Homo sapiens: one gene and its partners. The protein of the gene in region 3 interacts with the protein of the main gene of each other region in a pairwise test. Each region holds a gene or a part of one and is shown on either strand. Other genes may lie near its edges. The genes, in order: PTPN20, PPP3CA and AATK.

The links.
Region 1: the proteins of AATK (region 3) and PTPN20 interact in a two-hybrid assay, tested with the Homo sapiens proteins (one study listed by BioGRID).
Region 2: the proteins of AATK (region 3) and PPP3CA interact in a two-hybrid assay, tested with the Homo sapiens proteins (one study listed by BioGRID and IntAct).

Annotation. Positions count from the first base shown.
Region 1 is NC_000010.11:46,963,403-46,967,056, forward strand, and holds part of PTPN20 (tyrosine-protein phosphatase non-receptor type 20), read left to right. Parts: intron 1-1,583; coding exon 1,584-1,735; intron 1,736-3,654. UniProt on the Homo sapiens protein: Tyrosine-protein phosphatase targeted to sites of actin polymerization in response of varied extracellular stimuli. Has tyrosine phosphatase activity towards various tyrosyl phosphorylated substrates.
Region 2 is NC_000004.12:101,060,963-101,064,616, reverse strand, and holds part of PPP3CA (protein phosphatase 3 catalytic subunit alpha), read left to right. Parts: intron 1-1,259; coding exon 1,260-1,385; intron 1,386-3,455; coding exon 3,456-3,530; intron 3,531-3,654. UniProt on the Homo sapiens protein: Calcium-dependent, calmodulin-stimulated protein phosphatase which plays an essential role in the transduction of intracellular Ca(2+)-mediated signals. Many of the substrates contain a PxIxIT motif and/or a LxVP motif.
Region 3 is NC_000017.11:81,156,079-81,159,732, forward strand, and holds part of AATK (serine/threonine-protein kinase LMTK1), read right to left. Parts: intron 1-3,654. UniProt on the Homo sapiens protein: May be involved in neuronal differentiation.

The DNA of each region.
Region 1 (3,654 bases), on a different chromosome or scaffold from region 3:
TATATTTTCTACCATAATGGAAGCCCAGAGATAGGAAGGATTCCAGGTTCAATATGATCAGTTGCTAATGTCATCAAGAACATAGTTTCTTTATGTTTTTCACATTTGCTATACTCTTTCCTTTTATGGCCATAAGAGGGCAGACTATGATAATTAGGTCCTTATACTTCTTTGTTTATGTGTGTACAGAGGGATGAGGGTAGAAGAGAGGTTTGCTTCTCTTTTTTACAAGACCAGCCTATTTCTATGGTTGGCGCAAATCTCCTACCTATTTCTGAATTATTCACTGGAAGGATCTTACTATGGAATGATCACAAATGGCTTTAACTAACCAGAGGGGTAGAATCGGTGTTGGGGAGTCAACACCAGTGTTTGTTACAGTCATTCTACATTTTCATTTTTTTCTCTCTTCATTCTCCCAGCTTTTGTACTAGCAAAGGTGGAACACAATGGGAAGATCTAAGGGTTTTTCTGTTGGGCATCAAAGATGATCAAAATGGCTTCTACGCTTGTGGGAATTTTATCTCCCCTTCCAGCCTGCTTAGACCTCCTCTCATACTAAGGTTAGGGATATTTGTGAGAAATTTTAGGATTTCTGTGCCTGTCTATCCCAACCAAGAGCCCTCACTTCCAACCCTACAAAGAGCCTCTGGATATAGTGGAGTACCAAGATAAGATGTGCTTCCCAGGAATGTGCAGATTCTTAGAAATTTCCACCTCTTTCTTTTGCTATATTGTTTTGTATATATCTTTTTGCTGGTATTAACTTGATTATTGTTCACATTATTTGGCTTTGCAAAGAGATTATGAGAACTTGTTTTACTTGAACATCTTACCTCAAAATTTTGAAGCTTTTAAAATACTCTTTTACTGTTGACTTCTAGATTTATTGCATTTTGGCCAGTGGACATAATGTATAAAATTTCAGATGTTTGGAACCTTGACTGTCAACATTACCTAAAAGATCATAATTAAAAATAAAAAGATTGTATGTGTGCTATTAAATATTAATAGAATGTTCTCCCCAATTATTGGTTGCAAGTGTCCATATGTATCCATTATTCCATCTTATTAATTATATTGCATAGATCCTCTCCATCCTTGGTGTGTGTGCACGTGTGTGCGTTCATGTTCAATCTGTTTCAGAGTAATGAAACAGGACGTGAACTCTCCACATCACCACATCTCAGACTCTAGGAACTTCCAAACACTTGGTCCCAGGGAGGGCAAAAGTTCTCTTTCCTAATCCAAGCCTTGTACGTTCTTGCCTTGGCATAATTTTCAATCCATATACCCAATTCACATTATAAAACTGAACACTTCTCAATCCACAGCATTCGTTATGTTTATGGCACTGAACAGTTTTCTCCAAGGGCAGTGGATTTTGTATAATTTCAAGGTGTAAATAGCCATGATTTTTCCAAAGGAAGCCTCTTTCAAAGTAGTAGACTCTTCACCCGTGGAAAAATAAACTTCTGTTTACCCTTAAATGGCTGTGTCTTTAAGAGAAACAGAAACAAAAATAAAATCTCCCTTCACATATATACCAGTAACTTACATATGTGAATTTTTCTCTTCCTTAGATACGCGCAAAATTGTTTCTGAAGGAGAACTAGATCAGTTGGCTCAGATTCGGCCATTAATATTCAATTTTCATGAGCAGACAGCCATCAAGGATTGTTTGAAAATCCTTGAGGAAAAAACAGCAGCGTATGATATCATGCAGGAATTTATGGTAAATATTTTCTTAACGAAAGTCTATATGTGATTTCTTTTTTTATATCATTGCCAGAGGGTTTCTTTTCTTTTCTTTCTTTATTTGGTTTTAGTACATTGTTTTTACTTTTAAATGTTATATATATTTTAAAGTAATAGATGTACGTGGTTAAAAAAAAAGCCAAATAGCATAAAAGGATATAAAATAGAAAGTCTCTCTCTTTCTCTCAAGACTTTCTAGGGCCCCTTTACACTATTCATTTTGTCATTTTGTCATGCAAACTTTTAAAAAAATTTGTTGGAATGCACTTTACATCCTTAAATTTGTTTTCCTCCTAGATACAATTTCCAAGTATATTATCAGCATGTATAGCAGTATCTCATTTTTTTAAGTGTTGCATGGTAATTATATGGATAAGTACCTTAATTTATTTAATATTTAATTTCTGAAATTAGGGTACTTATCCATATAATTAACTACCATGGAACATTTGGACATTTAGGTTGTTCTAGTCTTTGCTATTATGAACAGCGGTCATCTCTCTTCATATACTGTATGCATATATTTAAATATTTTTTGAACAAATTCCTAGAAAGACAATATTAATATTTTGGGCTATCAATTTTTTGGATCTTTTCTCATCTCTTAAATGACAAATTATTTCTTATTGATTACTTAATTGGTATTTATTTGAGAACAAAAGAATATCTTTCCATATGTTTTTAAGCCTTTTATATTTTCAGTGAACTGCTAGTTTCAATTCTTTGCCCCATTTTCCTTTTTTTTTTTTTCTTATTGGTTACTCTTTTTTTTTTTGAGATGAGTCTTGCTCTTGTCCCCCAGGCTGGAGTGCAGTGGTGCGATCTCGGCTCACTGCAACCTCCGCCTCCCAGGTTCAAGCGATTCTCCTGCCTCAGCCTCCCGAGTAGCTGGGATTACAGGTGCCTGCCACCATACCTGGCTAATTTTTGTATTTTTAGTAGAGACAGGGTTTCACCATGTTGGCCAGGGCTGCTCTCAAACTCCTGACCTAAGGTGATCAGCCCACCTTGGCCTCCCAAAGTGCTGGGATTACAGGCGTGAGCCACCGCGCCTGGCCGATTACTAACTCTTTAAGGAAAAAATTATGCCTTTGTGTGTCTTACACGTAGTATTTTTTCTGCTGTTGTTTGTGTTACACACAGGTGCACATGCATGTGCACACACATGCCTATTTACCATGAAGAAATAGCTGATTTTTAGTGGTCAAATATGGCAATCTTTGCTTTTGGGGCTTCTGGGTTTGGGGCTTTCTGTGCTCTTTAGGAATGCTTCTTTTACTCTAGGATTGTAATAATTACTTCATGTTTTTTTCTAGTACCTTTATGATTTTTAAGCATTTAAATCTTTGATGCAGCTAGAATTTAATTTGGTATAAGATGTTTGATAGGGACTCAGCATTATATAACTATCCAGTTGTCCCAAGACTCTCCTGGAATTTCTCTTGAGTGAGGTAAAATGCCACTTTTATCATATACTAGAGCCTTACATATATTTTAATTTATTCTTGGACTTTTTCTACTGATTTTCTTATTCCTTTATTGGTATTGTTCTGTTAATTAGCATAGCTTCATATTATCTTTTAACATCTAATGAGACTCATCTGCCATCATTATTCATTCATAAATGAATTTTTTCTCATTCTTCCTACAGAATTTTTTCCAGATTAATTTTAAAATTGATTTTCAGAAAGACTTGATCATTTTATTGTACTACTTAAAACCTTCACAGGCTCCTTGTTCCCCATGGCAGCGGTTGCTAGGTTGGCTACACAAGAGTTACCCAAGAGCTTTGAAAATGTATAGATTTTCAGGCTTTCTCCACAAATATTCTAATAAAGTATGACTAGCTACCTCCTAATTTCATTTATATATGAAACAAGATATTTTATAGTTTTA
Region 2 (3,654 bases), on a different chromosome or scaffold from region 3:
ATGTGTCTCCAGCTCCTGAGCATCCATTCTGAGTAAAAACAAAAAAGTAAAGAAATGATTACTTTTTCTGTATTTTCAACCCCATAACATAAGCAAGAAAAGATCATATGATATCATATAAAATCTGTTGGTTACTGTCTTCTAATGTAATACAAATTATGCCCTGAATAGATAATAAAAATGAAATCTTGCCAAAGCCTAAGAAGGTATGCTTGAGTATCATATTTAATATTTAAAAGGCTGTCATTCAGAAGCAGAATGACATTAAATATTAAATATGAAATGCATAGCAAAACCATGATCAGTGACTGGTAAAGGCAGGTTTAAATGCAACCTGAGAATTTCCTGCAACTTCAAATTGTCTATCCATAGAATAGGTGACCTCATTAAAACAGGTGACTTTTCCTTTATTGAAAGTACTCACAGAGACATGAAGCATGCAGATTTGTCTTCCTGAGTCATGGATGGACATCTTTTTCAGAAATCAAGGATAGAGTCAGATAGAAGCACATTATTTTATGTGGGATTCAATCCAAACATTTTATTTTATTAAGTCAAGAAAGCAGTCTACTATAGGGTAACTATAGTTAACGATAATAGATTATAATTTCAAATAGCTGGAAGGAGAATATTGAATGTTCCAAATACAACTAAATGATAAATGTTTGATATGGTATTTAATGTATAGCTAATTACCCTGATCTGATTACTGTGCATTATATGTGTCAAAACATCACTATGCACCCCATAATTATGTACAATTATTATATTAATTTAAAAAATAAAGTAAAAATTAAAGCAATCTAACTTAAACTATTTTGTACAACTGTTGGGAGTTCTATTGAAGTTTTACTTTTTAAAAATAAATTCATTCAAATATTTGAGGAGATTATTATGTCAAACTTAGCTGTGCCACTTTTATTAGTGTCATCAGATATCAAATTTTAAGACCAAAGTATTCTTGGCTGAAAGGGGAGCTTGAATCAGTTCCTGACAGACATTGGATTAACTATTTTGTGTAAATATTTTCCAATTTGTTACACAATTACATATTAATTATTCATATATTGTGCAGTTATATATTACCCTGAGTAAGGTTTAAGTCCATAAGTTGTATAAGCATTCTGGGATGCCTAAGGTGTGAGCCTGGATGTTTTGGAACTTCAGTCAAATGGTTGAATTTTCTTGATGAGCTAAAGCCATACATAGAAGCAGAAATATGTTCTGTGTTCCTAACATCCTCTTTTGGTTATTTTTAGCTGCAGTATTGAAGTATGAGAACAATGTTATGAATATCAGGCAATTCAACTGTTCTCCTCATCCATACTGGCTTCCAAATTTCATGGATGTTTTTACTTGGTCCCTTCCATTTGTTGGGGAAAAAGGTATGTTGTGGAATCCTGAGATGTTCTTCTTAAAATAGTTTAGGAAGGAAGGAAAGGAGATTAAACACTCAGAAAGAGAAGAACTTTGGCCCAGCCAATAAAATTCACAAGTTGTACAATGAAAGATGTGATTTGGAAGTGGCAGTGTGTCACTCTGTATCCTATTAACAGGACACAATTGGTGAATGAGGGGGAAGCAAAAAAAAAAACAAAACACAGGAATATTTAGGAAATTTTTACAATCTTATTAGAATAATATAACGCTTTAAAAAATAATGGAAATACAGGTTTACCTGGTTTCAAGTAATGTCTACCCTTTTTCCTTACCCATTTGTACTATAATCCCAAAGGACTATTTAATTTTACAAATTATCTGCCAAATTAAAAGATTAGGATAGCCATGCTCTCCTTACATTTCTGATGTTAATAAATTATTGTACGATAGTGCTTAATGGCTACAATATTTTGAAGAACAACATGTACAACAGCAAAGTAGTTCATCAATAATGTAGGCATTAGCGCATTATAAGGTACAGAACAGGAGACAAATTTACATTTTAGAAAGTTATTTGTTAACTTTCTTCCTACCTTCCTTCTTTCCTCCTTTGTTTTGCTTTCATATGTTGACTTAAACCCCAACAAAAATTTTGGGGAAATGTCTGCACCAATTGTTTTTCATTCAGGAGGCCTAACAGTGATACACGGATTGATTCTCATGTATCTTCTCATACTTTCCATGAGAAGGTGAATGGGCATTGTAAGAAAAATAAATGTTCCTATAAGTATCAGAGTAATGATGTTCTATGAGGAGTATCAGAGAAAAGCTAAATATTTTTCTGAAACCCTAATGGTTGTTTTCCCTTTAAATGCCCTAAAATGATTAAACCAGTCAAGTTATGAGTTGTTGGCAAAGAAGCCTTCCCTTTGAATATCAAAATAATCAAAAGTAAATTTTTAATAATCTCTGATAAATATTCCCAATACTACTCCATATTGCAACTTTCTTGCACTGATCAAATTGGAGTAGTGTCATCTGTTGGCTTCGCTGGAAACAGAAGCAGTGTGGATGCTGACAACTATGGGGCACCTTTTGAACATCCTTTATTTGGGTTGTTTCTATTAATTATTAAAATTTGGGACATTTATTAGAAATTAACATATTAATCTATTGGTACACAAAATCCAGTTTTGATAATTAAACTGAAACTCTGGATCAGTGTTGGCTCTATTGAAGTTTGACTCTCTATCATTCATCTTCAATTCTAGAAGGACATTTTTTTAAATAGCATATTACTTTAAAAAGTAGCTCTCAAAGAAGCAGTAGACAGGCTTCTTTTCACATGCATGGTAGAATCCAATCTAATTTCAAAAAATATTAAATGTAAATAGCATGGTTTATAGTATAAAAATAATGCAGTACTAATTTCCTCTGTACAACACTTTTATGTAATCCTATTGTAATCTATTAAGTAAATTTCTGATTAAACTGCAACTGTTTAATTTTTTAAGCATTTTTGAAAATCAAATTTAATGATATTTCTGTCAATACATTTTTAAAATTAGTATTCTGAAAAATACTTCAAATATATTAGTTTATCAATCAACAGTTTGTATTAAACACAAAACCACATGCCTATAATGGCGTGAAGTTCTCTAGGTGATTAAAAATATAAGAAAAATCATCATTCTTAGTCCCTACTGAACAGAAGTTTGTAATCTGATCTAGATTAAGCCTTATCATTGTGTGACTAATAAAAATTCAAAAAAACTATTTTCTCTTTCATTGATTTGTAGTATATTCACATCCACATATTTGATTTGTCATTGTCTATTGACCTAGAGCTAGTAAATGTTACCATTAGATATCATAAGCATCAGCTAATAGTTTCATAAAGTCTGCATAGAATCACAAAGGCTGTCTTTTATGATCTGGATGTTTACTGAAACTGCTTCTATATACAAACTAAATAAGAAATGTTATTGCTAAGTTTGCTCATTAACAATGCCAGAGTAATAGTTAAGGTTATAACAGAAAACCCTGACTTTTCTTTCTTTGCTTTCTCTCTTTAGTGACTGAGATGCTGGTAAATGTCCTCAACATCTGCTCAGATGATGAACTAGGGTCAGAAGAAGATGGATTTGATGGTAAGAGGCTTGAGCCTTTGTGCTAATGCTATTTGCCAGATAATTACTTAGAGTCTCATTGCTAAATCTAAGAATAAATTTCTAAGATTTGGATTATGTTTAAAACGTAACATTATTGAGAATA
Region 3 (3,654 bases):
TTACAATGTATGTTACAATGTATGTTACAATGTATGTTACTATGTTACAATGTATGTTACTATGTTACAATGTATGTTATCATGTTACAATGTATGTTACTGTTACAATGTATGTTATCATGTTACAATGTATGTTACCATGTTACAATGTATGTTACTATGTTACAATGTATGTTACCATGTTACAATGTATGTTACTATGTTACAATGTATGTTACTATGGCCTGTGTTATTGTGTGAAGTGGCCTCTGAAGTTTTTATTTTTATTGAGTTTTTATGTTTTTCAAATAAATCCCTTTTCAAATGCAAATAAATGTTTTTTGTTTTGTTTTGTTTTTGAGACAGAGTCTTGCTCTGTCGCCCAGGCTGGAGTGCAGTGGTGCTTCTCGGCTCACTGCAAGCTCCGCCTCCCGGGTTCATGCCATTCTCCTGCCTCAGCCTCCCGAGGAGCTGGGACTACAGGCGCCAGCCACCACACCCGCCTAATTTTTTGTATTTTTAGTAGAAACAGGGTTTCACTATGTTGGCCAGGCTGGTCTCAAACTCCTGACCTGGTGATCCGCCTGCCTTGGCCTCCCAAAGTGCTGGGATTACAGGTGTGAGCCACCGCGCCCAGACTAAATGTCTTCTAAAGAATCTTTTAAATCATTTTTTTCCTGAATTCGGTTTTTGGAATTTTGACCTTTTGGGATTTCCACACTCAGGATGATGGCACTTGGGATTGTGTCTTTTGGGATTCAATCAGCTCCTGCTACAGAGAGCCCAGTCCAGCAGACCCCTCCTCGGCCCTGATCGCCAGTCAGGCACGAAACTGAGGACCCCCTCCCCAACTCAGAAGCAGGGCCCTGGGCGGGGTACGGCAAGACCCCACAGGCCTCCCGACACAGGGGAGAGAGGGCAGGAGGAGCCTCTGGGACAGCAACGGTGCCCCCACAGGCCCTGGTGGCGGCATCGTGCCCAGCCCTGAACCATCCCCACAGTCACTCCCGAGACCAGACAGATGTGGGCACCATCTGCCGCGTGGGATTCTGGGTGGCAGGTGAGGACAGGGCAGGGGCTGTAAGTCACAAGACACCGCCCCCGCCAAGAGAGGGGAGCCCGAATGTCCACGGATAAGGAGGATGCAGGCCAGCCACGGTTATTTTTAGGAGAGGCCACATAAAATGTAAGCTTCCGGGACAAGCCCAGGACATGGCAAGGTCCACGGGCCCGGGCCGGGTCCATCCGACACCGCGGGCACCGCACCAGCCCATGCACACGCTCGCCTCCAACCTGGGGCTGCACTTGCTCATAGACGCACACGTACCCCTCCACGCACATGCCTGCCGCACACGCTGGCAGCCCCAAGGTGGGCATCCGGCCCTCCCCCAGTGCTAGGACCAGCCCTACTCTCTGCTGCAGGGAACCCCCGCACAGTTCCCGGGGGTTACCACCCCAGCATCTCTAAGTCCGCCTCTCCTGCCCCTCGACAGCCAACCCTGCAATCAAACATGGGTGCCCAGCCCAGGCCAGCCCAGGGACGGAAGTGAGTTCCACCAGCTGGACACTCACAAGGAATGTCCCCTCTGTTGACACAACACACAGCCCAGGCCCAGCCTGCATCAGCATCAGATGCCCCAGGGCCTACCCCAAGGCTGGTCCAAGGGTGGGAAGGGCACCTGGAATGCCCCCGGTTCCCCAGGAGGCTGATCCCTGACAGTGGAGAAGCCTCCAAGGGGCAGGCAGCTCCAGCTAAGGTCCCACAGCCCCCATCTCTTCGCTCCTGGCCTGTCTCTGCTCGACGCACACTGTCCCCCAACACCTTGGCCCTCGGTCCCGCTCTTCGTGGGGGCCTACCCTCCTGTGCGTCTCAGGACCCCGGCCCTGACACAGCCGGGCATCCAGCTGGCCCCCTACAGACCTGCACGGACTGAGTCCCTCCCTCAGTGCTGGCTGGGCAGCAGCAGGGGGCTGCTGGGCTCAGGCTTGCCAAGGAGGAAACGGGCAGGTCCATGGCCAGGGCGGCCGGGCGTCGCGGATGCATGCCGGCCACGGGTATTTCTAGACAAGACTTGCAGGGCCGCCCGTCACAGAAGGAAAAATAAAACAGTCTGACGCGCTAGTTCAGGCTCCAGCAGCAGCCAAGCATCTCGCCAGACCCCGCGGCAGAGAGCAGGGCGGGGCCCAGCCTCCAGAGCCAGGGTCCGAGCAGGGTCCGTCCTCCCCGTCATTCATCCCTGGGGCCAGGAGCTGCTTTCAGGGACACCTGCCTCTGGGCCACAGAGATTCCAGGCAGCTTCCCAGGGAGAGAAGGTGCCTGAGCCTGGCGGTGTGCTGGTCAGTGTCTGCACCCAGCTCCCTGGGAAGGAAAGCGGGGCGTGTGCCGGCTCCTGCCGCAAGTGCTCTCACCTCGGCCCATTTCAGGGTGGAAGCTGCTGGTGCTCAGCCCTGCACAGGGTCACGGGAAGTGAAGCAGCAGGCCACCTGCTCACTGCGCACAGACCTGAGGCCTTGTGTCCAGGACCTGCCCACTGCCCCGAGCCTGGCTCCCACAGGCCAGCTGGCCAGGGCTGCCCGACACCAGGTACAAACCACCAAAAAATACCTCCAATGGGCACTCGCTTGAGGGGCTCAGAAGAGCTGGGCAGGACCTGGAAAGGCTCCTGACATCTTTCGCCACAGAAAGGCAGACAAGACCACCATGGGCAGCCCCCACATGCTCACGAGCCCGGGCGTTATAAAAACAGCAGCCAGCACTGGCGGGAGGGGAAGCCATGGAGGCGTTCGTCCATGGGGATGGGGGCAAAATGGCACCACCTCCTGGAAGCTCCCTGGACAGTGCCCCACAGTCACACACCAGCACCCCTGATCCCTGGGGCCGCTATACACACAGCGAAAACCTCAGGGCCCAAAGAGGACAAGGCCACAGGACCCTGCTTATGAGACAGACGTCCAGGCCAGGGGCCCAGAGACCGAGACAGATCGGTGGCTGCCAGGGCTGGGGGCAGGGGATGGGGAGTGATGCCCTCGGGCATGGGGCTTCTGTCAGGGGCAGGGATGCTCCACAGCTAGCCGTGCCATGGCTGCACTCTTGGGAATGCAGGAAAGCCCCAGCTGCTCATTTGACACAGGTGGGTCCTTGGTATGTGAGTTACCTCTCAGTAAAGGGGCCCTCACTCCAGCGTCCACGATAGCAGCCCACGGGACAGCCCACAACTGAGCATCATTCACAGAGAGCGAGCGAGATCCCCAACATGGGGCAGCTGGGAGGGCGCCGGCGGCCTGCGAGTGACCGGCCAGGTAGCAGTCCTGGGGGCAGTGGCGGGGACTCTCGGGGGCTGGGCGTGCTGCCGCGCGGGTAAATCCAATGCGGGGAAGCCCCGGACCCGCACCCCGGAGGTCAGAGCGCACTTGTGTGTGCCGTGGTCACTAGGAAGCCACACGCCTTTTTCGCAGGGGGTTCGAGGAAATTCCACGTGGGCCTCACAGCGGAGCCCAAACCCTAAGCAAGCCCCACCGGCTGCAGAATCCGCAGGACCAAGTACCAAGGGAACCCAAGGCCCCTTGTTCAGAGTCACTAAGAATTCCCAGAAGCAGAGCAGAAGGGAAGCCAGAGGGGCCCCACCGAGCACCAGGGCCTCGTCGGAGGATCCTCACACCGAGGACGGCATCCCC